Linked DNA regions of Homo sapiens. The protein of the gene in region 1 purifies or fractionates together with the protein of each later gene. This does not show direct contact. Each region holds a gene or a part of one and is shown in the gene's direction. Other genes may lie near its edges.

Evidence for each region.
Region 2: the proteins of KCNE1 (region 1) and KCNH2 purify together in Homo sapiens (affinity purification with western blotting, with the first as the bait; one study listed by BioGRID). This does not show direct contact.
Region 3: the proteins of KCNE1 (region 1) and FAM241A purify together in Homo sapiens (affinity purification with mass spectrometry; one large-scale study listed by BioGRID and IntAct). This does not show direct contact.
Region 4: the proteins of KCNE1 (region 1) and TM9SF3 purify together in Homo sapiens (affinity purification with mass spectrometry; one large-scale study listed by BioGRID and IntAct). This does not show direct contact.
Region 5: the proteins of KCNE1 (region 1) and SLC25A24 purify together in Homo sapiens (affinity purification with mass spectrometry; one large-scale study listed by BioGRID and IntAct). This does not show direct contact.
Region 6: the proteins of KCNE1 (region 1) and SERPINE2 purify together in Homo sapiens (affinity purification with mass spectrometry; one large-scale study listed by BioGRID and IntAct). This does not show direct contact.

The regions. Positions count from the first base shown.
Region 1 is NC_000021.9:34,445,271-34,450,141, reverse strand, and holds the end of KCNE1 (potassium voltage-gated channel subfamily E member 1), read left to right. Parts: intron 1-457; 5' UTR 458-498; coding exon of another isoform or gene 499-507; coding exon 508-897; 3' UTR 898-3,452; downstream 3,453-4,871. UniProt on the Homo sapiens protein: Ancillary protein that functions as a regulatory subunit of the voltage-gated potassium (Kv) channel complex composed of pore-forming and potassium-conducting alpha subunits and of regulatory beta subunits.
Region 2 is NC_000007.14:150,943,090-150,947,321, reverse strand, and holds the end of KCNH2 (voltage-gated inwardly rectifying potassium channel KCNH2), read left to right. Parts: intron 1-267; coding exon 268-445; intron 446-1,807; coding exon 1,808-1,957; 3' UTR 1,958-2,361; downstream 2,362-4,232.
Region 3 is NC_000004.12:112,186,395-112,191,265, forward strand, and holds part of FAM241A (uncharacterized protein FAM241A), read left to right. Parts: intron 1-298; coding exon 299-544; 3' UTR 545-4,871.
Region 4 is NC_000010.11:96,583,716-96,589,244, reverse strand, and holds the start of TM9SF3 (transmembrane 9 superfamily member 3 precursor), read left to right. Parts: upstream 1-2,232; 5' UTR 2,233-2,409; coding exon 2,410-2,511; intron 2,512-2,536; exon of another isoform or gene 2,537-2,934; coding exon of another isoform or gene 2,935-3,090; intron 3,091-5,529.
Region 5 is NC_000001.11:108,193,156-108,198,026, reverse strand, and holds part of SLC25A24 (mitochondrial adenyl nucleotide antiporter SLC25A24), read left to right. Parts: intron 1-4,871. UniProt on the Homo sapiens protein: Electroneutral antiporter that mediates the transport of adenyl nucleotides through the inner mitochondrial membrane. Originally identified as an ATP-magnesium/inorganic phosphate antiporter, it also acts as a broad specificity adenyl nucleotide antiporter.
Region 6 is NC_000002.12:223,973,641-223,977,882, reverse strand, and holds the end of SERPINE2 (glia-derived nexin isoform b precursor), read left to right. Parts: intron 1-255; coding exon 256-339; intron 340-1,978; coding exon 1,979-2,016; 3' UTR 2,017-2,838; downstream 2,839-4,242. UniProt on the Homo sapiens protein: Serine protease inhibitor with activity toward thrombin, trypsin, and urokinase. Promotes neurite extension by inhibiting thrombin. Binds heparin.

The DNA.
Region 1 (4,871 bases):
GAAAAGAAGTGGGTGTTCACCATGGGTTGTATACAAACATTGGAAGCAAGGGAATGCACACACCCAGCACCGCAAGTGAGCCACAAAAGCACAGTCATGAGGAAAAAGAAGGAGACTGAATGAGTTGGATGACCTGATACCATTTAGGTAAACCAAAATGCACACATGCAACCCCATACGCCACAATATGCAGCAATGCATATTAAAGAAGCTCATTCTGATGGTCACCTATAGGGGTGGAGATTGGAGTGGTGGATGGAAATAGAAGGGAATCAATGTATCCATTCATCTATCAAGAGAAGGCATTGCACAGACCCAAGATGGCACATGCCATGGCCTGTGGAGTGTCAGCTCACCCCTCTCACCTGAGATTTTAAAATTGTATACGTGTGTGTGCGTACGTGTGGGTTTTGGCCAATACGTACTTTTTGATTTGGGGTTGCATTTTTCCTTTAAGAGGTGTGCCTGGGAAGTTTGAGCTGCAGCAGTGGAACCTTAATGCCCAGGATGATCCTGTCTAACACCACAGCGGTGACGCCCTTTCTGACCAAGCTGTGGCAGGAGACAGTTCAGCAGGGTGGCAACATGTCGGGCCTGGCCCGCAGGTCCCCCCGCAGCAGTGACGGCAAGCTGGAGGCCCTCTACGTCCTCATGGTACTGGGATTCTTCGGCTTCTTCACCCTGGGCATCATGCTGAGCTACATCCGCTCCAAGAAGCTGGAGCACTCGAACGACCCATTCAACGTCTACATCGAGTCCGATGCCTGGCAAGAGAAGGACAAGGCCTATGTCCAGGCCCGGGTCCTGGAGAGCTACAGGTCGTGCTATGTCGTTGAAAACCATCTGGCCATAGAACAACCCAACACACACCTTCCTGAGACGAAGCCTTCCCCATGAACCCCACCACTGGCTAAAACTGGACACATCCTGCCTGGCAACCTGATTTTCTAATCACATTCCTCTCATACTCTTTATTGTGATGGATACCACTGGATTTCTTTTTGGCTGTTGTAAGGGGTGAGGGGTGGATTAATGACACTGTTTCACTGTTTCTCTAAAATCACGTTCTTTTGTGATAGACTGTCAGTGGTTCCCCCATATCTGTCCCTGCCTTGCTAAATTTAGCAGAATCCCTGAGGACATGGCCTCTGAGAATAGCAGCTGCATTTCCCAGACTCCCTTGCAGCTAGCAAGGTTGTGTGACTAAGCCCTGGCCAGTAGGCATGGAAGTGAAGACTGTAATGTCCAAGTAATCCTTGGAAAGAAAAGAACGTGCCCTTAACTAACTTTGTCCTGCTTCCCAGTGGCTGGATGTGGAGGAGGTGGAGAGCAGTTATGAGACTGGGAAAGAACGGGGCACTCAAAGAGCCACACACATCTGGGCCTGGGCGACGTGGATCCTCCTTACCACCCACCAGGCCAGATTTACAGGAGAGAGAAATCCACTCCACTCTTCCTTAAGCCACTGTTATTCTGATCTCTGTTAAGGTCGCAGAATCAATGCCCTTACTGATACACCTACCTTATAGGACTGAACCTAAAGGCATGACATTTCCATACTTGTCACAAGCACACACTGATTCTGCCCTTGTCACTTCTGTGCTCACTCTTGTGGCTCTATCCTCCTCCTGCCCTTCCGCCTTCCACTCCTCCCTTGCACCCATCCTGCACACATCTCCCTGAAAACACACAGGCACATACACTCATATACATAGACACACATACACACCTCAATCTAGAAAGAACTTGCTTTGTACAGGGCTGAGATGGAGGAGAAAAAAATGCCCCCTTCAGAATGCATACCAAGGGGAAGGTGCTCGGTCACTGTGGGAGCAGGGAAAGGTGCCCCCACTCCCCGAGAGCCAGGGGAAGGAGTGGCTCTGGGCAGAGAGGGACACATAGCACTGGGGTGGCAGGTCCTTTTGAGGTGATGGGCCGGTTTTGTGAGATGAATTGTATCCCCCAAAAAGACAGGTACCTTCAATGTGACCTAATTGGGAAATAGAGTCTTTGCAGATGATCTAGTTGAGATGAGGTCATTGGGGTGGGCCCTCACCCAATATGACTGGAGTCCTTATCGGAAGAGGGAAATTCAGACACAGATGCATAGGGAGGACACCATGCCGTGACAGAGGCAGAGGGTGCAGTGACACAGCCACAAACCAAGGAAGGCCGAGGATGGATGCGCATCCCCATCCCAAGAAGTCGGGAAGAAGCCAGGAAGGCTCCTCTCCCACAGGTTTCAGAGGAAGCACAGCCCTGCTTGAATTCAAACTTTTGGCCTCCAGAACTGTGAGTCAGTACCTGTTGTTGAAGCCACCCAGCTTAGGATACTCTGGCAGCCTACTGCCATACAGTATTGGGATACTATAGTGAGCCCATGCAGCACCTCTCACCCACCCAGAGATGGAGCTGCTCTGCCTTCCAGCGGGGCACCCGGAGGGCTGCCCCAGCAGATAGAGAGGGCCTCCGTTCTGCCACCTGCCTTGAAAGGGTCTCCAGCTGCCATATGTAGCATTGGAGTCCTCTGCAATGCGACATCCTGAAAGCTCAGCTGCCTGGGCATTCCTGAAGAGTATGGAATATTTAAATGAAACATATTTTTTTAAAACCTGCGCATAAGATAAAAGCAGCCCGTGTGCATCTTGGGCCATCCTCAAATGGACAGACTTGGTCTTGTGAGGTTCCAGTCCTTGTTTCACATAATAAACACTGGCATGGCTCAGCCCCTGAGTTACCACAGTCCTTGAGATGAGTGGTTCTTTGGGTTACAAAGTCCTCTGAAAGTCTAGTGAGAGCTGTGATCTTTGCCCCACCCGAATAATGCATATGGACACCACACCTTGCCTGCCGTGTCCAGGATTCATGACCAGTAGCAGCCCAGCTATGCCTGCCACGTCTCACGGCCCCTGTGTAAGCCAGACCCTTCTTAGGCAGTTGCATATTCCCAGACTGAGGCAGGGCAGGTTTGCAGAGAGAGACCCAGAGTGCACGTGACCCGCAGTGTGATCCCTGGCACGCACTGACTTTGATATTCCAGGCACACGGACTGGCTATTTATCACCACTTCTTTTTCCCCACTAAGATTCCTGTGCCTTTTAAGGCAGAGGGAGATCCCTATGGCGTTAGTCTTCCCAGGCCTTAAAGGGCCCTTGTCTTCACTCACAAACCTCTTATCTCTTCTTCTCCTTCCTCTACATTTTAAAGGGGGAGAGGGAAAAGTAACCGGGAGACAAATTGAGCCACATATTTTCAGACACTTGTTACCATATTTTAAAATCTGGCTTCACATACACAGAGTCTTTGCTATGCACCATGTACTGTTCTAAGCTTCTTAAAAATAGAATCTCAATTATTATTTTGCAGGCAATACTCTATGCATTCATTAGCTAGGACAACAATGCATTTGCAGTAGTGAGATTTCGCTAAAAAATTAAAGCCATTTACTATGATCTGTGATGTGTGTTCTTAATATCACTATGATACTTCTAGAAGATGGTTATCAGTTCTTACAATGCTTTGATGAGGCAGCCCCACGGACTTGGGAATAAGGAAAGTAAGATTGCATGTGGATAATTAAACTCTGCCATCAACACACAGCGTGTCAGAACAGAGAGATGTGGGTCCCTCTGATGTCTGCAGATAGAAAGCAAGTGAAGCCCTAGGTGGAGACAATGGCGAACAGTGGCACCTCCTGCCTTGTAAAGGGGAGGCTGCTGTCAACTCCTCGCATTTGCAGCCAGCAGCGAATATGGGCACAGTCTAGACGGAGCAGGGAATGTGGACACCATCTAGACAGAGCAGGGAGTATGGGCACCGTCTGGATGGAGCAGGGAATGTGGGCACTGTCTAGACAGAGCAGGGAATGTGAGCACCGTCCAGACAGAGCAGGGAATGTGGGCACCGTCCGGACGGAGCAGGGAATGTGGGCACTGTCTAGACAGAGGAGGGAATGTGGGCACCGTCCAGATGGAGCAGGGAATGTGGGCACCATCTGGACAGAGCAGGGAATGTGGGCACCGTCCGGACGGAGCAGGGAATGTGGGCACCGTCCGGACGGAGCAGGGAATGTGGGCACCGTCCGGATGGAGCAGGGAATGTGGGCACCGTCCGGACGGAGCAGGGAATGTGGGCACCATCTAGACAGAGCAGGGAATGTGGGCACTGTCTGGACGGAGCAGGGAATGTGGGCACCATCTAGACACAGCAGGGAATGTGGGCACTGTCTGGACGGAGCAGGAAATGTGGGCACCGTCCAGACACAGCAGGGAATGTGGGCACCTTCCGGACGGAGGAGGGAATGTGGGCACTGTCCGGACAGATCAGGGAATGTGGGCACCGTCCAGACAGAGCAGGGAATGTGGGCACCGTCTGGACAGAGCAGGGAATGTGGGCACCATCCAGATGGAGCAGGGAATGTAGGCACTGTCTGGACAGATCAGGGTATGTCGGCACCATCTAGACAGAGCAGGGAATGTGGGCACCATCTAGACAGAGCAGGGAATGCGGGCACCATCGGATGAACTTCTAGGTATTGTTGGAGAAGCTGTGAACTCTTCTAATGTTTGCACATTGGCAACTAATTTACTTTTTAAAACTTGAGTGGGTCAAACGAAATATAACCCTGAGCTGGATTCTTCCCAGAGACCACTGATTAACTGCCTGTGCTTTACAGAAAAAGAATAGCTCCCAGGCAGGCCCATGCCACACCTGACAGAAGCATAAACAGACTCAGGGCTAGGGTGTGGTGGCTCACGCCTGTAATCCCAACACTTTGGGAGGCCTAGGCGGGTGGATCACCTGAGGTCAGGAGTTTGAGACCAGCCTGGCCAACATGGCGAAACCCCATTTCTACTAAAAGTACAAAAATT
Region 2 (4,232 bases), on another chromosome or scaffold:
GAGTGCAGGTGGGGTGGGGGGGCACGCCCTGGAGTCTGGTCCAGGTCCTGGCGGTGTTGTCTGGTAGAGGGAGAGGGCCTGTCTGTGTGTGCAGCAGCTGGATCCCCTTCTTCCATTCCTAGCCCAGCTGGGGGCTGCCACACCTCTAGCGCGGAGGGCCTGGGTTGACAGGCTGCCCCTCCCCCCTCCCCTTCCCCTTCCCCACTCCCGGTGGAGGCTGTCACTGGTGTCCCCACTTCTCTGAGCATCCCCCACTTCCTGCCCCAGGCTGGAGACCCGGCTGAGTGCAGACATGGCCACTGTCCTGCAGCTGCTACAGAGGCAGATGACGCTGGTCCCGCCCGCCTACAGTGCTGTGACCACCCCGGGGCCTGGCCCCACTTCCACATCCCCGCTGTTGCCCGTCAGCCCCCTCCCCACCCTCACCTTGGACTCGCTTTCTCAGGTAAGCTCCAGCCCTGCTTCCTCGATGTACCGTGACCCGCTTGTTCCCCGATTCCAGCCCAAACCTGCTTTGCTGCCTTTCTGCTGGGCTCTGTGGCCCAGCCTCCCTGAACCTTGTTCCTGCCCTCCTCCCACCCCTGTCCTCCTGGAGGAAGGCTGCTTCAGGAGCTGCAGGCTCAGGGTAGGGCAGGAGAGTCCCCCGTCCAAAGCCCCTAGACAGCTGGGTGCAGGGAACCTGTAGGCTAAGTGGCCCGCAGCTTCACTCCCCTAGTGTCCACAGCCTCCACCGCCAGGCCCCGGAGCATCGCCTGAAGAGCCAGCTCCAACGGTGGTGCCTGTCTCACGGCCACGGGTGGTCTCCAAGAACTGACTGAGCCCGAGACGTGGCGGTGGAGGCTGCATACCAGAGTATCTAGGGACAGGGTCCCGGGTCCCTTCTGTGAGTGACACTCCCTGGTCTCACCGTCCTGCCCATCCTTGCCCTTGGCAGTGGCTGTCACAGGGTCATCTTGAGGGTGCTTGGCATTTCCCAGGGTGCAGAGGCCAAGCCTCCAGGGGAGGACTTCCTGGGCCTGCTTTGCCCCCTCTGCTAGAGATGGGCCTTAGTTGCCCCTTGTCCTCTCCTGGGTGGACCTGCATGTTCCTGGCCTCTGCAGGATGGCGGTGTCTGTGTCAACCTCCGCGTCCATGGTGGGGACTCCTCTGGCTGCCAGAGGCGGCCTGGGATCTGCTCCCTCCCCACTTCCCTTGGCATCCGCTCCCCCCTCCCATATGCTGCCTGCTCCTGTTTGCAGACACGAGGGCCCACGTCAGCAAATGTGCCAGTCTCCCTTCGCAGCCGCCCCCGCAGAGCTCTCACCAGCAGACGCTCAGTACCCACAAACCCCTCCCGCCTGCCCCGGCCCTCTCCCTGGCCTTCAGATGCCTGGCCGCCAGCCTGCCTCTGTTTCTAGGTCCCCGAGTTCTTTCTGGATTGCGGGAAGGAATCTTGTCTCTTTTTCTGTCCCAGCTTCTGTCCCAACACAGAGACTGCTTGTTCCAGGTTGGGTTGGGCTCAGCGGCCACATTCCCTCGGGAAGAGACAGGGGCCTAGGGTTTTCCCTGCTCCCAGCTCTCTTGTTTGGCTCCTGCTCTCAGAGAATGCCTTTCTCTACTTCCCACCTTGGTGCCTCCCCTTGGTGGCCCCTGTCCTGCTCTCGCTGCCTTGGCTCTTGTCCCCTCCAGCTTCTCTGCCCACCTGACTCTCCTCTTGGCCCTCCTGTCCTCCCGTCCATCCTCTGTCCCCGGGTTCTCCTGCCCCTTTCCCTCCCCTTCCTCCTCCTCCATGGCCTCTTCGCCTGCCCATGCTCTGTGTGTATTGCAGGTTTCCCAGTTCATGGCGTGTGAGGAGCTGCCCCCGGGGGCCCCAGAGCTTCCCCAAGAAGGCCCCACACGACGCCTCTCCCTACCGGGCCAGCTGGGGGCCCTCACCTCCCAGCCCCTGCACAGACACGGCTCGGACCCGGGCAGTTAGTGGGGCTGCCCAGTGTGGACACGTGGCTCACCCAGGGATCAAGGCGCTGCTGGGCCGCTCCCCTTGGAGGCCCTGCTCAGGAGGCCCTGACCGTGGAAGGGGAGAGGAACTCGAAAGCACAGCTCCTCCCCCAGCCCTTGGGACCATCTTCTCCTGCAGTCCCCTGGGCCCCAGTGAGAGGGGCAGGGGCAGGGCCGGCAGTAGGTGGGGCCTGTGGTCCCCCCACTGCCCTGAGGGCATTAGCTGGTCTAACTGCCCGGAGGCACCCGGCCCTGGGCCTTAGGCACCTCAAGGACTTTTCTGCTATTTACTGCTCTTATTGTTAAGGATAATAATTAAGGATCATATGAATAATTAATGAAGATGCTGATGACTATGAATAATAAATAATTATCCTGAGGAGACTCCAGTGGTGCTGGGAGGGTGTAACTGTTACTTGCTGTGTCCTGTGTTCCTGTCTGGACATGCATAGGTGTGCCTGCACAGGAATCCGGGTCTGTCTGCATGCCCAGGCCCACAGGGCTGCCCCTGTATCCAGGTCTGGGTGTGTGCAGTGGGGGTGCTCCCTGGGGGCTGACACAGGTCATCTCCAGGGAGACAGAATCTTGTCTCTGTAGGGCCCTGGATTCAAGATAACAAAAAACCCCCTGAACCACATGCATTTAGAGGCAGTCCTGATGGGACACTGACCTGGTGTCTAGCCCCTGAGGGCCATGTGCCTCTGCTGGGTGGGGCACCCTGGCTCCCACAGCTTGGCTTCACACTGACTGTGGAAGCAGCCCTGCACTTGTCTCCCTCACCCAGTTCCTGAGCCTGCGTTGACCCTAACCTGAAATTGGTCTGAGTCCTGGCTCCCCCTGCCACCCACAACTTAGCCTTATCTTATCCAATACAATTGGGCCCCGGACACACTGGTGACTCCAGCCCTGACCAGAGCTCACCTGGTGTCTGGCTGCAGATGGACCTCACTTGTATCACCTTGGTCCCCTGTGATCCTGGATCTCAAGAGGAGCTTCCTGAAGAGGGTGCAACCTTCAGGGTGACTCATTCCCATGACCGGGGAGCAAGGCAAGGCAGATGTCTTGGGGACAGTGAAGGGTGTGTGTGCAAGTGCCTGCGTGTGCCTGTGTGTGTGTACATGTGTGTGCATGTGCTGCTGGGCTTGTAAGGACATGCAGCCCCCAGAGGAATGTGGTGCAATGACTGAGGCTGGTGTGGAGAGCCAATGGGTGGCGGGCAGGCTGTGCCCAGCTGGGTGGGTTTGCAGGCAGGGAGCTGCCAAAGGCCTCCAGAGACAGAGCAGCTTCTCACTGAGTCTTTGAAACCTCTGACCCTCGGAGGTGGGTTTGTTGACTGTTTTATTTTATTAATTTTTTTTTGAGATGGAGTCCCGCTCTGTCACCCAGGCTAGAGTGCAGTGGCACAATCTCAACTCCTTGCAAGCTCCGCCTCCTGGGTTCAGGCCATTCTCCTGCCTCAGCCTCCCGAGTAGCTGGGACTACAGGCACCCACCGCCACGCTCAGCTAATTTTTTGTATTTTTAGTAGAGACAGGGTTTCACTGTGTTAGCCAGGATGGTCTTGATCTCCTGACCTCATGATCCGCCCGCCTCAGCCTCCCAAAGTACTGGGATTACAGGTGTGAGCCACCGCGCCTGGCTGTTGACTGTTTTAAAGACAACTGTGCCGTTCTCACTGCCCATGCCTGGGTGGGGCGGGTGTTGGTCTCTGAGCAGCCTGGAAGGTTCCCTGTGCCCAGAGCAGGGAGGAGAGAAGGAAGGGATCTCCCCCTTTCCAGGGCCTGGGAGAGACAGGGAGAAGGAAGAGATCCACAGGTCAGAGGGGGAGAGGGGTGACAGAGAGGGATGCCAGGCAGAAAAGACAGGTTTGTGCATCAGGATCTGTCCCACACATGTACACACATGCACATGTGAGTGTGAGCTTGCTTCTGCTCATGGTTTAAAAGTTTAACACAGGCCTTCCTGGTTGGTTGATGTGACTGTCACTGCAGGTGGGGGCCTAGCTGGGGTGGCCTAGATTTGGTGTCAGTGGGGCATGGCTCTGCTTATGGACTCTGGAGCCCAGGGCAGGAGACAGACCCAGGCAGTGGCTTATGGGGAGCAGTGAAGGTACACACGAAACTCAATGCTCTTCGCATGCTGGGCTGTGAGCTGAGCCAACTCCCCGCTCCCTGGTGCTGTTTCATCCTTGTCATGGTCTGCCCTTGTCCTTAGAGTGCCTTCATCTTGGGAGTCTGCCTGATGCCCACCACTCCG
Region 3 (4,871 bases), on another chromosome or scaffold:
AATCTTACCAGGACAGAGCAGTCAGGCCTTGCCTCATAAAACAGGAGGGTGGCAGAAAAGGGTGTTCTGAAATCATGGTCACTCACAAGAGAAATACAAACATGATTCTTCACTTAAGCAGTCATTTTTGTGCAATTCCAGGATCAAAAAGAACATTCCCATTGTGTTAACAGGTACTTGTAGAATAATTATCAGAAGTATGCCCAGCACTTTGGAAGATGAAGAACTAAGGTTCTTAAAGACGTTTACATATTTCTCATGTTATGTTCATGTTTTGTCTTTTTTTTTTTTTTTAAAGGATGTTGAAGACTCACAGAACCACACTGGTGAGCCGGTTGGAGATGACTACAAGAAAATGGGAACACTTTTTGGTGAACTGAACAAAAACCTTATCAACATGGGCTTCACAAGGATGTATTTTGGAGAACGAATAGTGGAACCAGTAATAGTCATTTTCTTTTGGGTTATGCTGTGGTTCCTTGGCCTGCAAGCCCTTGGACTAGTTGCTGTTCTTTGCCTTGTTATTATTTATGTGCAACAGTAAAACATGGCCGAATTGAATTGTTTGACATTTGGTAGCCATATATGTAATTGAAGAAGTTATATATTTCACTTTTTGACAACCGAAAAAGTTTGCCTTGTTTCAAATCATGTGCTGGCTGTTTTGTAAGTAAATTTATACATGGATGTCACTTAAAACTAAACTCTTGATCATAACAGGGTTGAATATATATTTTGAATATACATTAGCTTATTCAAAACTCTTGTTTCACTACTGTGATCTCTGTCTCCTTTATACACCTCTATCCCCATGCCAAATCTTAAGTAACACCACCAGAAAGTGAACAGGGAAAATAACAGGACATGGAATTCAAATCAAGCAATATAGTTCTTATAAAGAGTTCCAATAAAACATTTCAGAAGAAAAAGTATGAAACAAGCTAAAAGTAAGTTTCACTTAGAAAACTTCTCCCCACTCACACTCCCCACCAAATAATCTCATATTATTTGGGAAATATTTGGATTTCAATTGTCCCTACCCAGCCTAAACTAAGGTAAATGATAATTAGCATACACTACCTTAATATTGTGATGAAAATCAGTAAAGATAGAACGTTTTCTAAAGGTCAAAAATAATATATTTATTATTACTGGGGAAAGCTCCCAGGTTAAATATAACTTTTTTAAAATGTAACATTTGGACCTAGACCTACTTTAATATATCATTTGAAGTTTCAGACAATTTTGGTGCTAATTACTTTTTGTGAGTTTTTAAAGTCTCATAGCCTAGTTGACTGCACCCTATGGTAATGCCATATTTTCTTGTATCTAACAAGTTGCATATTTTTTCCTAGAGAGACATTTTCAGTGTATTTTTTTTTAGAAATTTATAATTTTATAGTTCTTTCATAACACTTATTCTGAGTTTTGAAACAATGTATTTCCTATCTTGACATGGATTTTTTCACAAAAAATTTGTATTTTACTGTTGTTTTCAGGAAAAAAATCAGATCATTTTTCTTTGATATCTATATCAGAAAGGTACAATATTAACAGTATAAAACCAAATGCTTAAATTTGGAACTTAGCCAATTTTGATAATCTTTTTCTAAGGCTAAAGTCACATCAGTAATTGGCTAGCCATGTTATTAAGGTGTCTTAATTCAGCATTTTCAGGTTTTATATTGAAATACGCATTTCTTTAAATATTCTTTGAAAATGGAGAATGGCTTTAGTGATATTTTGGGTTTTGTTAGAGAACCTAAAATCTTTACACTTTCATCTCAAAGATTATAAAGGAAAGGGGGGTAGTTAAGATTTAGAATTCAAGTTAAATTTCAGAAATTGGGGCAGTCAGGCATTTGTATCTTTGGTAGGGCAACAAGTAAAACATGTAGAGTGCTTGCTATCCCACTTCATAAAGCTTTTACCCAATCTTATTTCTAAACCTCTGTGCATTCTTAGTGTCTTCTCATTCTGAAACAGAAAATAAGGAAAAACATTTAACTTAGTTTTCTAAAATCAGATAATCCTAAACAAAAATGTTAGTCAGGGTCACTAAAAAGTATTGCACATTTATATAAATACAGTCCTTTTAAAATTTGACTTTTAAAAAACAAAAGACTTTGTACGATATTGTGTTTTTATTGCTTTTGCAATATTTTTATAGTAGCCTTTATGAACTCAGTATAAGTGCAAGTTGTTTGAAAAGGTGTTTTTATTAGTGCACAATAGAATTGTGAGGTTTTCAATAGATGTCATGAGATTTTGTATATCTACATAAAATATCAGTACATTTTTTTCTAATGCTACTGGAAATTTTACTTTTCCTTTGCAACACATAAATGATATGATGTACAAAATAACAGCTCTGGTTCCACCAGTACCTAATGTTGAAAACATTTTTAAAGTAATTTTTAATACTAACTATTTAGTATACTGTCAGTACTGTACATCTGCACACTGGTGTTAATAGGGTATATATTAAATTATATAAAGAAATAAGATATTTTGCTGTTATTCTTTCTACATATATTATTGGTCAGTACATCAAATAATATTTGGCTTTGATATGGGAAAAAACAAACTTTGCCTATGTAATGGAAATAAAATATTTTCTTTTATGAAATATATTAGAATGCAGATTATACTAATATCCTGAAATAAAACTGGTAATTTATTTGGTTCATGGTATAAAGAATTAGATTGGGCCGGGCGCGGTGGCTCACGCCTGTAATCCTAGCACTTTGGGAGGCTGAGGCGGGTGGATCACAAGGTCAGGAGATCGAGACCTTCCTGGCTAACATGGTGAAACCCCATCCCTACTAAAGGTACAAAAAATTAGCCGGGCCTGGTGGCAGGTGCCTGTCGTCCCAGCTACTCAGGAGGCTGAGGCAGGAGAATGGCGTGAACCCGGGAGGCAGAGCTTGCAGTGAGCACTCCAGCACTCTGGGTAACAGAGTGAGACCCCATCTCAAAAAAAAAAAAAAAAAAAAAAAAATTGGATTGAAAATGATTCTCATCATTTCAATCTCAAATACAAGCCAGTTTTAGAAACTGTTATTGCTTATGAATAAAGAAATAGAAGTTACAATGCTAAGGTTATTACATAATGCATACTCATATGGCCAGTAATTCAAAAGAAAAAGGTCGAAGTCTACAAATAAACAGACTGTAGATGAGTAAATCCATTTTTCTTAAAGTAAAAACTCTGTATTTTGTAGAATTCTGTCCTCTCATACCTTAAGCTGTCATGGGCAAGGTATTTTCCCATTCCTGGCTACAGGCAGATCATTCCTAGTCCAGTAGTGTGCTGGAGCAAGCTTGCACTGGCTTACAAGAGCCAACTGTGAACATTTTTTCTGCCTTCAGTGCTGTCAAGTTGGTAGTTTGAAATTGGCCATGGTGAGAGTATTTACACCAAAAAAATTAGTAAACACTGCAAATCAGATCTTTTTTTTTTTTTTTTCCTTGAAAGCCAGCTGTTAAACATACATCAGCACACCCTAGAGGCCACATTCCCATTTCTATTCCTACAGATACGAAAGTAAAGAACAGAACACATTTTGTGAAATAAAAGAAAGCATATGAGGTAAATCCCCATCGACCCACCCAAAACTGAATCTGGCTCTTTCCCTTGTGGGTATTATGGTTCATGGTTATCTTCTGACCAACAAATCTCTATTTAATCATGTTTTGACCACAGAAAATCTCTCTAGGCTGTCACCAAGCTGTAAATCCACTAAAGACTATCCAGGCAATCAGGAAAGGCAAAACTTACAGAATGATAGAGGAAAAATTACAGTATAAGTAAAGGTCTGTTGTAATATAGAAAGCTCAAAATAGTCAAAGCCAGGTTTGGAGCAATCAAAGGCTATTCGTGTGGTTCATAGATTGTTTTAATAGTTATTTTACAAATGTTTATTAATTTCAGGTGTTTAAAATGCTTTCATTACCAATTTATGGCTTTACAATTGAAGGGAGAAAAAAAAATGTAAGACGGCCAGGCGCGGTGGCTCATCCCTATAAAAGTGCTGGGACAGCACTTTGGGAGGCCGAAGCGGGCGGATCACCTGAGGTCGGGAGTTCGAGACTAGCCTGACCAACATGGAGAAACCCCGTCTCTACTAAAAAAAAAAAAAAAAAAATACAAAATTAGCTAGGCGTGGTGGTGCATGCCTGTAATCTCAGCTACTCAGGAGGCTGAGGCAGGAGAGTCGCTTGAACCCGGAAGCCAAAGTTTGCAGTGAGCCAAGATTATGCCCTTGCACTCAATCTGGGCAACAAGAGCGAAACTCCATCTCAAAAAAAAAAAAAAAAGACTTTCATGCCTGGTAATAGAGTTGGCCGAGAAGAATATAAACTTATTTACAAACTATGACTTCAGGAGTATTGGTGGATTAGAGGTCATTTGCAACTCTTGTCTCTCTGCCCAACATTTAATTTTTGGTATGCGTTGGAGTTCAGTCCAACAGCCTGCTCTCACATCACTCCACACAGCAGCTCGGCAATGTCACCACTCCCGTGGCTGCAGAGTTACCATTTGCATCCTAACAGCTCCCCAATTTGCATCTCTAGATCAGAGCACTGTACAGAATTTAAGACTCCTACATTCAATTGCTTGCCCAATATTTATTTGCATTTGGTTATCCCATAGTACCCAAGACTCAGCGTGTCCAAACGAGCGCAGCATCCTTCTCCCAAATCTTTAATTCCTGTTTCCCATCTCAGCAAATGACACAATCCTTTCCCTAACTGCTCAAGCAGGAGTTGTAGATGACATCCTTGACTCTGTGTTTCCTACACTACCTACATGTAACCAAGTACCAAATCTATTTTACTTCTAAAAATATAATCTTTCTACTTCTATT
Region 4 (5,529 bases), on another chromosome or scaffold:
TATTCATTCACAGAATTGACTGAGCTTTCACTATGAGCAAGTCACCCTGCTAGGTGCTCGGGAGGATATACAAAGATGTATAAGATGCCTCCTCTGATTTCTACAGCAATTACTGGTGTATGATTCATTCAGCAATTAATCATGTACTGCTTTGTGATGTTTCTTACACTATCTAGAAAGCATTCTTCAAATCTTGCTATGCTATTTGACTTTTCACTTGTTAATGTCTTCATTCATTCAGCAAAGAGTTGAATACCTATGATGTGACAAGCACTATCTCAGCAGCTGGGACAGATATAAAGACAAACAAATCATAGTCCCTGCAATCAAAAAGGTCCGAATGCAGTGTAGAAGAGGAAATGTGAATAGATAATTACAACACAACACGCCAAATGCTATTGAAATCCCAAAGAAGGAATGCTCCATTTCTCAAGGGATCATGCAAGGTTTCACTGAGGAGGTGATCATCAGCTAGGTCTGAAAGGATAATATCTAAGGCACAAGGTGAAGCAGAGCATGCCAGATAAAGGGAGTATAAAGAGCAAAGGCACAGAGGTGTAAAAATATATACGGGTGAATGCAGAGCATAGAAATTGGTGGAAGGTAAAGTTAGGGAAATAAATTAGGGATAAAATAGGCAAAAATTTGGACTTTATCCTTTAGCAGGGAACTTTTTTTCTGATTACATAGTTAGCACATGCTCACTGTAAAAAATAACCAAACATTTATAGGCATGTACAAAGTAGAAAGTTAACCACTGATAGTAGTTTGTTATAATCTTTCAGATTGTTTTCTATGGGCAGACTAACATATTGCCATATAAAATGAAGTTAAACTCTTATTTTCTTCAACTTGAAAATTTAACAGAACCTCTTGGTTATCATTCCATGCCAGTACTTACCTATTTCCTTTTTTTAAAGTGGCTGTATAGTTGGTAAATCATTACCAGCAAAAAGACCTATTATGGAGCCAGACTGAGTGGGTCTGGTGTTTCAGCAAGCCACTCAAGCTCTCTGTGCTTCAGTTACCTCATCTGTAACAGGAACATTTTCACCGTACCTGCTGCATAGGGTTTCTGTGAGAATTTAATGAGCCAATATCGTTCAGAATAGTGCCTGGCAGATGAACGCCCTCGTGGTGACTCCATGATTTATTTACCTAACATTGAAGAACTGTTTTAAGCAAGGGAGTGAGCGATATAATCTGGTTTCTTTTTAGAATAAAAAAAACATCACCCTGGCACCTGTTGGGGATGTTAAACGGGAGGAAGATCAGTCAGTGATGGATATCTTCTTGTGAGACTCTTGCAATACATAGTGATACGGAAGACTGGTTGGTACTGGCAGAGGAAGGAGAGGAAAAATAAACTCTTGAACCACTTTTAAGAGACCAAATGCTAGAACTTGTTGACTGCTGATGGCTGAGAAGAGACAATCTGACAAGTTCGAGATTTTTGGCTTAGTGGCCTGTGTAAATGGTGGTGCCACATTCGTATATTTTTTTTTTTTTAAAGATTTTTTGTTTCAGTGTCTACTACGGATCTGGCACTGTTCTAGGTACAGGAAATACGGAAACAGGATCTCTGCTCCGAGGAGCTTACACTCCAAGAGATATTTATGACTGGGAAGAGGAGACCCAGAAATAGTTAAGTAAACACATAAATGAACAAGAATGGCAAGCTAACTTAGCATGTCTTGATTGAACAGTAGGGGTCCAGTAAATATTCAGTAACTTTAAAACATCCAACCCTGTACGAGTTTAACAATCTCTCCTAACGGTGATTACAGGAGCCCGTGATTCATTCACAGCGGCAGACGAGCGCCAGGAAAGGGTTATTTGATCTGATCCCTCAAGTTCCGGAGGCAGCAGGTCAGACGATCGGCCCCATTTGGCAGCCAGGAAAAAAGCTTAAGCATTTTGGCCAAGGTTACACAACCCGAAACACCGGGACGCGGCCCGGAGGCGGCTTCGGCCTTGCGGTCCAGGCTAGGCCACTGCGCCGGGGCCCAGCCTGCTCGGCGCCCGCCCGAGTGCTCGGCAGGCCCGTAGCGCCGCGGCTCCCAGGAGCCGAGGGGCAGCCGGCGCGCAGGCGGCGGTTGCCGGGCCCTCCCTCGGCCCGGCGGCGGTGGCGGCCCCGCGTCGCGAGGCACTTCCGGCGCGTGCCGGGGTGGCCGGATGACGTGGCTGAGTCAGAGGAAGAGGCTGAGGAGGCGCGGGGGGCGGGGGAGGCTCAGGAGCGGGCGGTGACGGCGACGGCGGCGGCAGAGGAGGCAGCGGCTGGGCCGGGCCCCGTGCGTCTGTCCGCGCCCCGTGGATGCGAATCGGCCGCGGCGGAGGCGGCGGCGGCGGAGGAGGCGGCGGCGGGAGGAGGAGTCGGTGAGCCGGCTCCGGGCCGGAGGGGCGCGGAGGATGAGGCCGCTGCCTGGCGCTCTTGGCGTGGCGGCGGCCGCCGCGCTGTGGCTGCTGCTGCTGCTGCTGCCCCGGACCCGGGCGGACGAGCACGAACACACGGTGAGGCGCCCCGGCCGGCGCGGCCGCCCCGGGCTAGCTCCCCAGTTGCCCACTGAGGCAGGCCCCACGCAGCCTGGAGTGCCCGGCGGCCCGGTGGTGCCCCACTGCGGCCCGAGGACTCCTTCCGGTTGGGCCTGGCGGAGCAGGAACCTTGGGAGCGTGGAGGAGGCATTTCCGTGCGCTCCCGGGACAGGGCTCCGCTCCCGAGTGACAGGGTCTCCTTCCCCCGGTCTGGGCCTCAGTGGCGCCGCACCCCAGGGTCTCGGGGTTCCTGGGACCCTGGGGCCAGGAAGGAGCCTGGGAAGGGTTGAGGTTCATCCACCGCGGGAGCGGGGCAACGGGCAGGCTGGGCTCGGGGCTTTTGCCCCCCAGGGAAGGAGACTGCCTTCTGGCTACTGAGGGCTGCGACGCCGAGGAAGATGGATGCATCGTGATTACCCGGCAGCCACTAACCAGGAAATATCCTACACTTTATGGTCTCCTTTGGCTTTTATCGCCCGCTTCTGCCCAGACCGGATTAAAACCCTGGGGTGGGGCAGCATTAATAAACTTGAATTGAAGAGCAGTTTATACTTACTTGTAAGTGCACCCAACCTACACGCGTTCAATTCCTAGGCCTTTCTTGTAACTTTCTCCTCACCTTCCAGCCCCTAAGTGAGACCCCCATCCCGATAGTCTCTAACTAAGGCAGCTTCTGACAGTAAAGGGTCTTGACGTTTCCCAGTCTTCAGGTCAGGGCCAGAAACAGTCCCTTTTGCATTTGGCCTAAAGGTGATTGGCAGTTTGTTTAATTGGTATTCTCACATCAAAACGTGCATGTGAACGACTCTTCAAATGGCTTTCACTTAGGGCTGTAACTGTGGTTTTCAGAGTGGTAGACTTGAGCAAGGCAGGAAGGTCAGGTAAATTGAGAGTTTGCTTGACGAGTAATTGTTTTTTATACCTTTACCATTAATGATAGGAGTTTCTATGAGAGACTGTGTTTGTACTAAATCAGAACGATCTGAGGGAGTCTTATGTCATTTCTGGTAAGTGAGGAAATGAAGCAGTCGTCCTTACCTATTTAATGGATCCGATTTTATTTGTAATCAACAAAACTTTTCGCTGGATCCTTGGCTAGCTGGGATCTTATTTTAGCTAATAAAAGCTCTAAACTTTTGACTGTTCTACCTTCGGTCACAGCCAGAAACTTCTTACCTGTGTAGGTATGTATTTCTTTAGAGACACAAATCTCGAATTGGTGACATGTTTTTGTACTGTACTTGTGGTGTTTCACCTAAGATAATTTTGTTGGGAGGTTAAACAGCTTAAAACGATTTCCTTTTGTGTTCTTTCATCAGATAAGCTGTCTCAAAGTTTAAGAACTGCTATTGTTTCACATAGTATACAGGGACCATGTATAGATTTGGGTCTTTGAGTATTTTTAAATTTTCAGTGGGCATCCATCCTTCTGTTTAATGATATTATTACTAATATATTTCCAATTAAAAAAACACTTAGGAAAAGTTACCATATGAAACTCAGAACTCTCAATGTGTAGTTCCGTGATACAGGCATATAAGCTCAAAAGTGTACTGTATTCTACTTTTTAATCTTGTAATCTTGTGACTTACACTGCTGTGATTAGGGAAACCATTAAAATTTTACAAATTGGGTGTATATAAAGGCTTTAGAATAATTTACAAATTAAAAGTGTAATTTCAATGCAGTTTTATTGCTAGGACTATTTCAGTTTTTTATTCTAGTAATTGCATATAAGATATTTGATAAAAGGTTTTTGTTGACTGCCACGAAAGATAATATGGTATATATGAGATGGTTGCTAGACAAAAAATTTAGAATCCATATTACTTCATGTCTATATTGAACTGCTCTTACTTGGTTACCCATTATTAAATACCTATTATTTATTTATTTATTTTTGAGACAGAGTCCCACTCTGTTGCCCAGGCTGGAGTGCAGTGGTGCTGTCTCACATCACTGCAACCTCAGCCTTGCGGGCTCAAGCGATTCTCGTGCCTTAGCCAAGTAGCTGGGATTACAGGTGTGCGCCACCACACTTAGCTAATTTTTGTATTTTTAGTAGAAAGGGGATTTCGCCATGTTGGCCCGGCTGGTCTTGAACTCAAAACGACTGGCCTCAAGTGATCTGCCTGCCTTGGCCCCACAAAGTGCTGGGATTACAGGCATGAGCCACCACGCCTGGCCGAATATGTATTGTAAAAAGCAAAACAAAAACAAAAACAGTTATGGGAAGAATAGCATCTAAAAATAAGCATAAAATTCAAATGTCATTTATATTATTTTTTCACTGTTAGCCAAAATCTTTTGCTTTTTCTAAATTTCTTGAAAATATTTCTCAAAAACTAGGCATTCCTATTCCTCTTAGCCAGATAGTAGTACCGAAAAGGCTAATGTCAAGTGAGTTTTATTTATTTTTTTCTGTCAAAGAAGCAGAAGTAGCTAGTAAAGAGAGAATAATACTAAAGGAAGAGGAGACATTGGTGTGGGGAAGTTGCTGAGTAGGTGTTTAGTAAATACATGTAGAATTGAATTATCAAACAATAACTTTTAGAAGCTGAAGCTGGCCTTTTAGGTTAATTGCCTGTGAAGATTGTTTCCAGATAATACCTAGTATGTCTTTTGTAGTAAAATGGGCTATGCACTGTTTTTTTTTGTTTGTTTTGTTTTGTTTTTTTGAGGCATAGTTTTGCTCTTGTCACCCAGGCTGGAGTACAGTGGCACAATGTCCACTCACTGCAATCTCTGCCTCCTGGGTTCAAGCAATTCTCCTGCCTCAGCCTCCCTAGTAGCTGTGATTACAGGTGCTTGCCACCATGCCTGGCTAATTTGTGTATTTTTAGTAGAGACGAGGTTTCACCATGTTGGCCAGGCTGGTCTTGAACTCCTGACCTCAGGTGATCTGCCTGCCTCGGCCTCCCAAAGTGCTGGGATTACAGGTGTGAGCCACCATGCCCTGCTGGCTATGCACTGTTCTAAGTATTTTACACTTATTAA
Region 5 (4,871 bases), on another chromosome or scaffold:
GGTGTCCTGGCTTTATAGCAACCCAGCCTCGAGGGAACTGATCCATTACTGAGGGAACTAATTCAGTCTCATGAGAGAGAGAACTCACTCACTACTGCAAGAATGACACCAAGCCATTCATGAGGGATCTGCCTCCGTAACCCTGACACCTCCTGCTAGGTCCCTCCTCCCAACACGGCCACATCAGGGATCAGACTTCAACATGAGTTTTTGTGGGGACAAACAAAACGTAGCACTTGCTTTGCCTTTTGGTTCTATTCACATCCTCCACAGGATTGCATTATGCCTACCCATTTGGTGAGGGCAGTCTTCTTTAATTGGTTTACTGATTCAAATGCTACCCTCCTCCAGAGACATCCTCACAGACACACCCAGAAATCATGTTTTACCAGTTATCTGGGCATCCCTTAGTCCAGACGAGTTGATACATAAAATTAACCATCACACATGGGATAGAATTAGGATTACACAGTCAACCTTTATGGGAGAAAATTTCAGAGGCATGTCAGGGGTTTATGTAATGTCAAGGAGTGAGGACATTGGCTACTTGAGCATAGAAATGAGAACTGTGGGGTGACTCTTCGGTGGAAAGTTTCAAGGTAGTAGTTTGTATCTAAGCCAAATACTCAGCTTGAAGCAAAATCTCTATAAATTTTCATCTGATTTGATCTCATCTCCGTGTTTCCAAGCATTTGTAATGAATTGAGCATTTAGAAGAGAACAAATTTCTGTTTAAGTTTCTTTAGATTTTAGATGGAAAGAATGTAGAAATAAGAGTAGAATGTAGAAATAGGTATAAGGAATATAATAGCTAACCATTACTAAGTGTTCCAGAATTATCCAGGGAAGAGAAAAGAATTCAAGGCAAGTCCTGAGACAAAATTAAGAACCAATTGGAAGTGAAAGCGCTACATTTTTTTTTCTGGTATGACCTTTCTTTTCTGTATGTTCCAAATCTCCTCACTATGAAATTAGTGAAAAATTAAAGTTAAAAATTAGAGAAAATTCACATTAAGTTCTCCTAGGACTCAGTAGTATAAGGGTATAGACTGAGAGTAGAATGTAGTGTGAGAACAAGGAGATACAGTATTTAACCATTACTAATTCTCTTATACTTGTCTAGTAATCCTATTTCCTTTTAAAAGTCTTCAGTTATTTTCTCTTTACGCACCTCCTTCTCCCTCTTGTCTTCCTCCTTCTACCCCCATCTTCTTTCTTCCTGTGGAGCCTTCATGAATGGGATTAGTGCTTGTATAAAAGTGACCTGGAAGACCTTCCTTGCCCCTTCCACCATGTGAGGACACAGTGAGAAAACAGTGGTCCATGGAACCGGAAAGTGGGTCCTCACTAGACAGTAAATCTCCTAGCACTTCGATCTAGGACTTCCAGTGTCTGGAACTGCAAGAAATCAATGCTTATTTTTTAAGTAAGCCAATAGTATTTTTGTCATAGCAGCCCAGTTGGACTAGGACAATTATCAAGAGCAAGAAGGGAAGCAGCAAGCTACAAGAGAGTTCCGTCCTTGGTGTAAATTGACCGTGTAATCCTTGTCAAGTTTGAGCCTTACTGGAGCTTTACTTTCTTATTCTTAAAATGCAGATATCTTGCCTGCATCCTGGACAGAGCTTTTAACAAGGTCATATGTTGCAGAATATGAAAGTTCATGTTAAAAAACCCTTTAAAATGTGGTATCCCATTTACTAGCTGGTGAACTTCTTGAGGAACCTCTGTGCCCATGGGTATGAAGTGTATGCTGAATGATCACCCAATGTTAGAGGAGTGGGTGGACTGGTAACCTGATTTAAGGGCCATTCTAACTCTTACATTCTATGATTTTTTTAATTCTGTCTTTAAGTTTTTACATTTACAATCACAGAAAAAATAGTCACATAGAAGAATAGTAGCTTAGCAAATGTTTATTGCATTGAGTGGAATCAGGATTTCACTCCATTAAGTAATTCCTCTGTTAACAAAGAGGGTTCATTTCATTTTTATTTCATTAATATTGCTTTTTTTTTTTTTTTCTGGAGACAGAATCTTGCTCTATCACCAAGGCTGGAGTGCAGTGGTGCGATCTCGGCTCACTGCAGCCTCTGCTTCCTGGATTCAAGCGATTCTTGTGCCTCAGCCTCCCAAGCAGCTGAGATTACAGGCACATGCCACCACACCTGGTTAACTTTTGTATTTTCTAGTAGAGATGGGATTTTGCCATTTTGGTCAGGCTGGTCTTGAATTCCTGGCCTCTAGTGATCTGCCTGCCTCTGCCTCTGAAAGTGCTAAGATTACAGGCATGAGCTACCATGGCCAGCCCATTTCCTTAATATTTTAATTGTCAGACATGTTATGGTTTCTGGCACAATATTAAGAAGACATGATATGAAATCACAGGGTGAATTTTAGGGCATCACAACAGAAAGATTATGGTATAAGAAAAACAATGGAATTCCAACTACATTTCTGTCAAATGTTCTAAAATATATAAAATCTGTATCTTTTGTGTTCTCTCCTGATTTATATTCTAAATTTGATGTTATCCTTCTCTGCAGAAATAAAGTGTCTGAAAGAATGAAAAAAATGGAAGAATTCTTTAGTAAGGTATAAAATACCCTTTCTATCTTTGTAGCATTCTAAGCCTTTTGTCACCTTTCCAAACTCCCAACATGCCATATTCCCTGACTAGGCCACAGCCATGTACATTGATCCCTTTATTTTCTTCTCTCTGCCTGAGATTTCTCTCATTCCCCCTTCTCTGCCTGGTATATGATTGCCCATTGTTTAAGGCCCCAACTCACCTTTATAATCTTCCTAGCCCACTTTCTTTATCGGTATTCCAGAAAAAACAAAAGAAGCTTCCACAAGACAACATTCTGTAATACACTGCTTAACTTCTTTTGACCCTGCTGAGTTCAAAAATCTTATCTTTTTAAGGATTGAATGGAGTCCACCAAGGTATCTATATTTGACAGGATTTATGAAAACAAAAGGATTTGTTGAGAAAGTTTGAAGCCTAACTCTGAAACGTGGATCATAGTGTTTACTACACATTAACTGTTTTAGTGGATGTAATAGTTATTATTATAGGCTGTGGAATCAGAACAGGGTTCAAATGTTTTCACCGCTTGCTAGACTGTGGCCTTGGGCATGTTATTTAATGCCTGGAGGCCTCAAATGTTAACTAGGAATGGTAAGACCTACCCAGTAACTTAGCATAAATAGTAAATTCATTCATTTAATGTTTTCAAACAGTGCCAGACATTGTTTAATGAACTGGGGATATAGTGGTGAACAACACTGACAGCGTTCTTCATTGTATTCTCAAAACCCTCCCTATAGTAAGTAGGTCTGTGTGTGTGTGTAGGTGCATGGGGAATAAAAAATAATAAGCAAATAATGAACAGGGTAATTTCAAAAAGCAGAAAGAGCTATTCAACAAAACTACCTGCCTTTTATTAGATGAAACTCTCAACTCTATGGTTTGTTCTCTCCTGTCAATTCTGTTAAATGCTGTCAGCCTGTTTTCCTTATCACCCTGGCCACGACTTCTGTCTTTTCTGCTTGGTCCTGTAGACTCTAACCCAAGGCTCATTCTCTGCCTGGCTATCTGCCTTCTGTGGCTCTTTGCCACTACCTACATTTTCTGTGTTGCACAGGGAAGGACCATTCCCTGTGGACCATAAAATTCTCTTTTTGAAAGAATTCATTCTTGATTGGGCCACAGCACATCTTGTGAAACAGCATTAGACATTTGCCACTGCTCAGCAGCTCTGGGGGAAAATGTTTACTGAGAAGCGTACAGTAGTTTTTTTGACTAACCATGGTGCAACCTCCTCCCAGAGGGAAACCTATGAGTATTTCAAGGACATGTGATGGTCTGTTTTTGTCCCCAGTATCTGACATGATGGGTAGTGTAGAGCAAGAGCTTACAGATAATGGCTAAATTAAATTTTCTTTTTGAATTTTAATATTCAACTTTTTAGGGTACCCAATCTCCATATTTAGGAAAATAAATTACATAAAAAGTGGAGAGTTTTTATTGTGAAACTGCACCTCCATATTCCCAGTGGTGCAGGATGAGGGAGCACAGGTGTTGGTCTGGGGAAGCCAGGGCCCTCTGTGGTTCTGGAGGGTGAGGATTAAGAGGAAGCCTTAGATAGTATTTATGAGTATCTGCTGACTTCTCTCTGGGACCCAAGATCACTGAACTTTTGCCTATTTTGAGATCATCTTTCCAATCCAGCCACTAACAGCTGAAGGATAGGCTTGCCCTGGAGCCATTGTAGTGGTTGGATGAAGATAAAAGATAAAAAACTGTGAGGGGAGGTGTCACAGAAGAAAGGGCCCATGTGGGCAGATTTTCATTCAATTCCTAGTCTTTATTACAGCAATTCTCCAGTGCTGCAACCTTAGAAAAGGATTCCTACAACACAATGTAGGTACCCATCAGCAGCAGATTGGATAAAGAAAATGTGGTACATACACACCATGGAATACTATGCAGCCATAAAAAAGGAGCAAAATCATGTCCTTTGCAGCAATATGAATGCAGCTGGAAGCCAATAACTTAAACGAATTATTGTAGAAACAGAAAAACAAATACTGTGTTCTCATTTACAGGGGGAGCTAAACCTTGGGTAAATGGGGCATAAAGATGGGAACAATAGACACTAGGGACTCCAAAAGGGGGGAGGGAGGGAGGAGGGCAAGGGCTGGAAAGCTTCCTACTGGGTACTTTGTTCACAACCTGGGTGATGGCACGATTAGGAGCTCAAACCCCAGTATCACACAGTATACCCTTGTAACAAGCTGATGGTGTAACCCCTGAATCTACAATAAAATTATTTTATTTTAAAAAATCATTATAAGGATTTTTA
Region 6 (4,242 bases), on another chromosome or scaffold:
GAGGAGTAAGTATGTTTATCAGAGATGGTGCTTGTGTAGAAGACATGAGAGAGTAATGTAAAGGGCCTGGCCCAAGGTAGGCTTAGTAAATGGTGACCATTGAGCCTGTTGTAACATGGCCAGCCTATGGAACAAGCATGAAGTGTGTCTTCAGACACCAGCCTCTGAGGGTCCATGAAGCTAGCTAACTTGCTGGCCTTATGCTTACATGGTCTCATGTAATGTGCACAACACATTTTCCTTTTCTTCCCGTAGCTGCAATTCTCATTGCAAGATCATCGCCTCCCTGGTTTATAGTAGACAGACCTTTTCTGTTTTTCATCCGACATAATCCTACAGGTAAGTGACTCTCCTCTTCCATCATGCCCTCTCTGTTAGAATTTCAAAAGGTATATTGCACTCTTCATTATATCCAACAGTGGTGCCCATAGTCCATTTCCCTAATGTCAATAGTTGCAGACACTTTGAATAATATAACCACCCATGTTAAAGAGATAGGAAAATAAAGGCTGTGTTTACAGATGTGATGGAATCTTTTACACACTGACAGGATTTTAGGTTTTGCGGATTGTTGTTTTTAACAGAGAGGCTCAGCATCCCTTTGGAACACTTTTGACATCTATTGACTTTTCCATATTTATATAAATGTGGTGGTTCAATTTTGCTAGAAGCTATATAACTTCAACTTTTGTGTATTAGTCTGTTCTCACCCTGCTATGAAGAAATACCCTAGAGTGGGTAATTTACAAGGAAAAAGAGGTTTAATTGACTCACAGTTTCACATGGCTAGGGAAGCCTCAGGAACCTCACAATTACGGTGGAAGGCATCACTTCACAGGGCAGCAGGGGAGAGAATGAGAGCCGAGTGAAGTGGGAAACCCCTTATAAAACCATCAGATCTCATGAGAACTCACTCACTATCACAAGAACAGTATGGGGGAAACTGCTCCTATGATTCAGTTTTCTCCACCTGGTCCTGCCCTTGATATATGGGGATTATTAACAATTCGAGGCAAGATTTGAGTGGAGACACAGAGCCAAACCATACCACTTTGTAAGCCCACTCTATTGTTATACCTTGGGAATTGTTAATACAGTAGATTTTTGCTCTGTGAGTCATGGTTCAAACTTGGCTCTGGCCTTAAGCCTCATCTTTAAAATGAGGACAACAGTAGTGCTGACTGCTTATTACAATTATGAAGTATAAGTTCATCTTTGTAGAGAGGTTGGCTTCTTGTTGGTACAAGAGTAGGCACTAATATATTTTAGCTTTTACTATTTTATTTAATCAGTAATATGAGATAGTTCCTTATTCTCTTATCTCATTGCATCTGTGATGTTCTAATTGGCATGCCCCAGAACTGAGCCAGCCAATGAGGAGCTTCTGGCCACATGTGGCTATTTAACATTAACTTTAAAAATTCAATTTCTGGTTGGGTGCGGTGGCTTATGCCTGTAATCCCAGCACTTTGGGAGGCCAAGGCGGGTGGATCACCTGAGGTCAGGAGTTCGAGACCAGCCTGGCCAACATGGCAAAACCCCATCTCTGTTAGAAATACAAAAAATTGGCTGGCAGTGGTGGTGGGTGCCTGTAATCCCAGCTACTTGGGAGGCTGAGGCAGGAGAATTGCTTGAACCCAGGAGGCGGAAATTGCAGTGAGCCGAGATGGCGCCATTGTACTCCAGCCTGGGTGACAGTGCAAGACTCTGTCTCAAGAAATAAAAAATAAAATTAAAATTCAACTTCTAAGTCACACTAGCCACATTTTAAGCACTCTCTGGCCACATGTGACTAGTGGCTACCATGCTAGACAACAAAGATATAGACCATCTCTACCACTGCAGAAAGTTATACTGGACACTACTGAGCAAGAGGTCAAACATGATTGTTTCCCTTCCCTTAAATAGAATACCTTCCATCTTATTTTAAGGATTATTAATTTACAGAGTCATGCATTGTTTTCTTTTAATTCTGTAGGTGCTGTGTTATTCATGGGGCAGATAAACAAACCCTGAAGAGTATACAAAAGAAACCATGCAAAGCAACGACTACTTTGCTACGAAGAAAGACTCCTTTCCTGCATCTTTCATAGTTCTGTTAAATATTTTTGTACATCGCTTCTTTTTCAAAACTAGTTCTTAGGAACAGACTCGATGCAAGTGTTTCTGTTCTGGGAGGTATTGGAGGGAAAAAACAAGCAGGATGGCTGGAACACTGTACTGAGGAATGAATAGAAAGGCTTCCAGATGTCTAAAAGATTCTTTAAACTACTGAACTGTTACCTAGGTTAACAACCCTGTTGAGTATTTGCTGTTTGTCCAGTTCAGGAATTTTTGTTTTGTTTTGTCTATATGTGCGGCTTTTCAGAAGAAATTTAATCAGTGTGACAGAAAAAAAAATGTTTTATGGTAGCTTTTACTTTTTATGAAAAAAAAATTATTTGCCTTTTAAATTCTTTTCCCCCATCCCCCTCCAAAGTCTTGATAGCAAGCGTTATTTTGGTGGTAGAAACGGTGAAATCTCTAGCCTCTTTGTGTTTTTGTTGTTGTTGTTGTTGTTGTTTTATATAATGCATGTATTCACTAAAATAAAATTTAAAAAACTCCTGTCTTGCTAGACAAGGTTGCTGTTGTGCAGTGTGCCTGTCACTACTGGTCTGTACTCCTTGGATTTGCATTTTTGTATTTTGTACAAAGTAAAAATAAACTGTTATGAGTAGTAAAAATAAAGCTATTTCTCTGCTATTTGAAAATACAATAGAAGAAACTGAGCCTTTTAGACATTCGTCAGCCTCTTCTAATAAACCTTTGTACTATGTAAACATCAGGAAATTCAAAGCTCGGAGACTTTTCCTATTCTTTTCCTCTAGACCTGACAATCAAACACTTCCCCGCTTCAACACATCTCATTTTCTAGATCACTTCAACAGAGTAACTATTACAGTAATCCTAGTTCTACTCTTAGCTACATTCACTCCAGCAATGGCTAAGAATTCTCAGCAAAGAAACGGATTTTGTAGCAAGTGCCGAATGAAGTTGCTGGGTACCATGTATTTTGGAACTCCTGGGGGAACAGGAACTGTTTCGTTTTTGGTGATGATAGGCAGGAGTGTTTTTGAAATGACAGGGTTTTTTTGTTTGTTTTTTGTTTTTTTTTTGTTTTTTTCAAGGTAACTTTCCAAGTTGAACTCAAACATCATAATTCTTTTTTTCCTTTTTCTTTTTACAGAGACATGCCTCGCCATCTTGCCTAGGCTAGTCTTGAACTCCTGACCTCAAGTGATCCACCTGCCTCAGCCCCACAAAGTGCTGGGATTACAGGCATGAGCCACTGGCATTCAGCTTACAAATATCATAATTCTGATTTTACCATTTGCCTGCTTTTTAAAAAACTAATTTCTTAAAGATTTATGCAGTCTAAGCTAAATCAGAATTTAAGTTTAAAACATTTATCAAAACTTAAAAACATTTTTTTATTTTTAGCCCTTGAGTTCTACTTGCCTTAAACTATACATTAAAACCTCACATTCGGCACTCCATCAGTTTGCCATTTGGAATTATTATTTGTCAAGTGGGCTGAGCCTTGCTGTTCCCAACTATGTATGTGTACTTTTTTTTTTTTTCTTTTTTGAGACAGAGTCTTGCTCTGTCACCCAGGCTGGAGTGCAGTGGCGTGATCTCGACTCACTGCAACCTCTGCTTCCTGGGTTCAAGCAATTCTTCTGCCTCAGCCTCCCCAGTAGCTGGGAGTACAGGCACGCACCACTGCGCCTGGCTAATTTTTGTATTTTTAATAGAGACAGGGTTTCACCATGTTGGCCAGATTGGTCTCGAACTCCTGACCTCAGGTGATCCCCCTGCCTCGGCCTCCCAAAGTGCTGGGATGACAGGCTTGAGCTACCGCGCCCGGACTACATTTTGATATCTTTAAGTCAATGATCTGTAGGCCTTGTCTTACTTCAAAATGATCAAATTTATGGAACCTCCTTTCCCTGAGGGAAATTGAAATAAATTTAGACTTAGAGACTGCCACAAAAATTACAGGCCTGTGATAGATCATTTTTGCTGTGTAGACATGTTTTTTTTTTCCTAAAACTTTTTTTGAGAAATTTAAAATTCCATTTCCATTTTGACACCTAATAATTTTTTTTTTTTTTTTTTAGAGATAGGGTCTCAGTATGTTGCCTAGGTTGCCCAGGCTGGTCTCAAACCCTTGGACCTCCCAAAATATAGGGATTATAG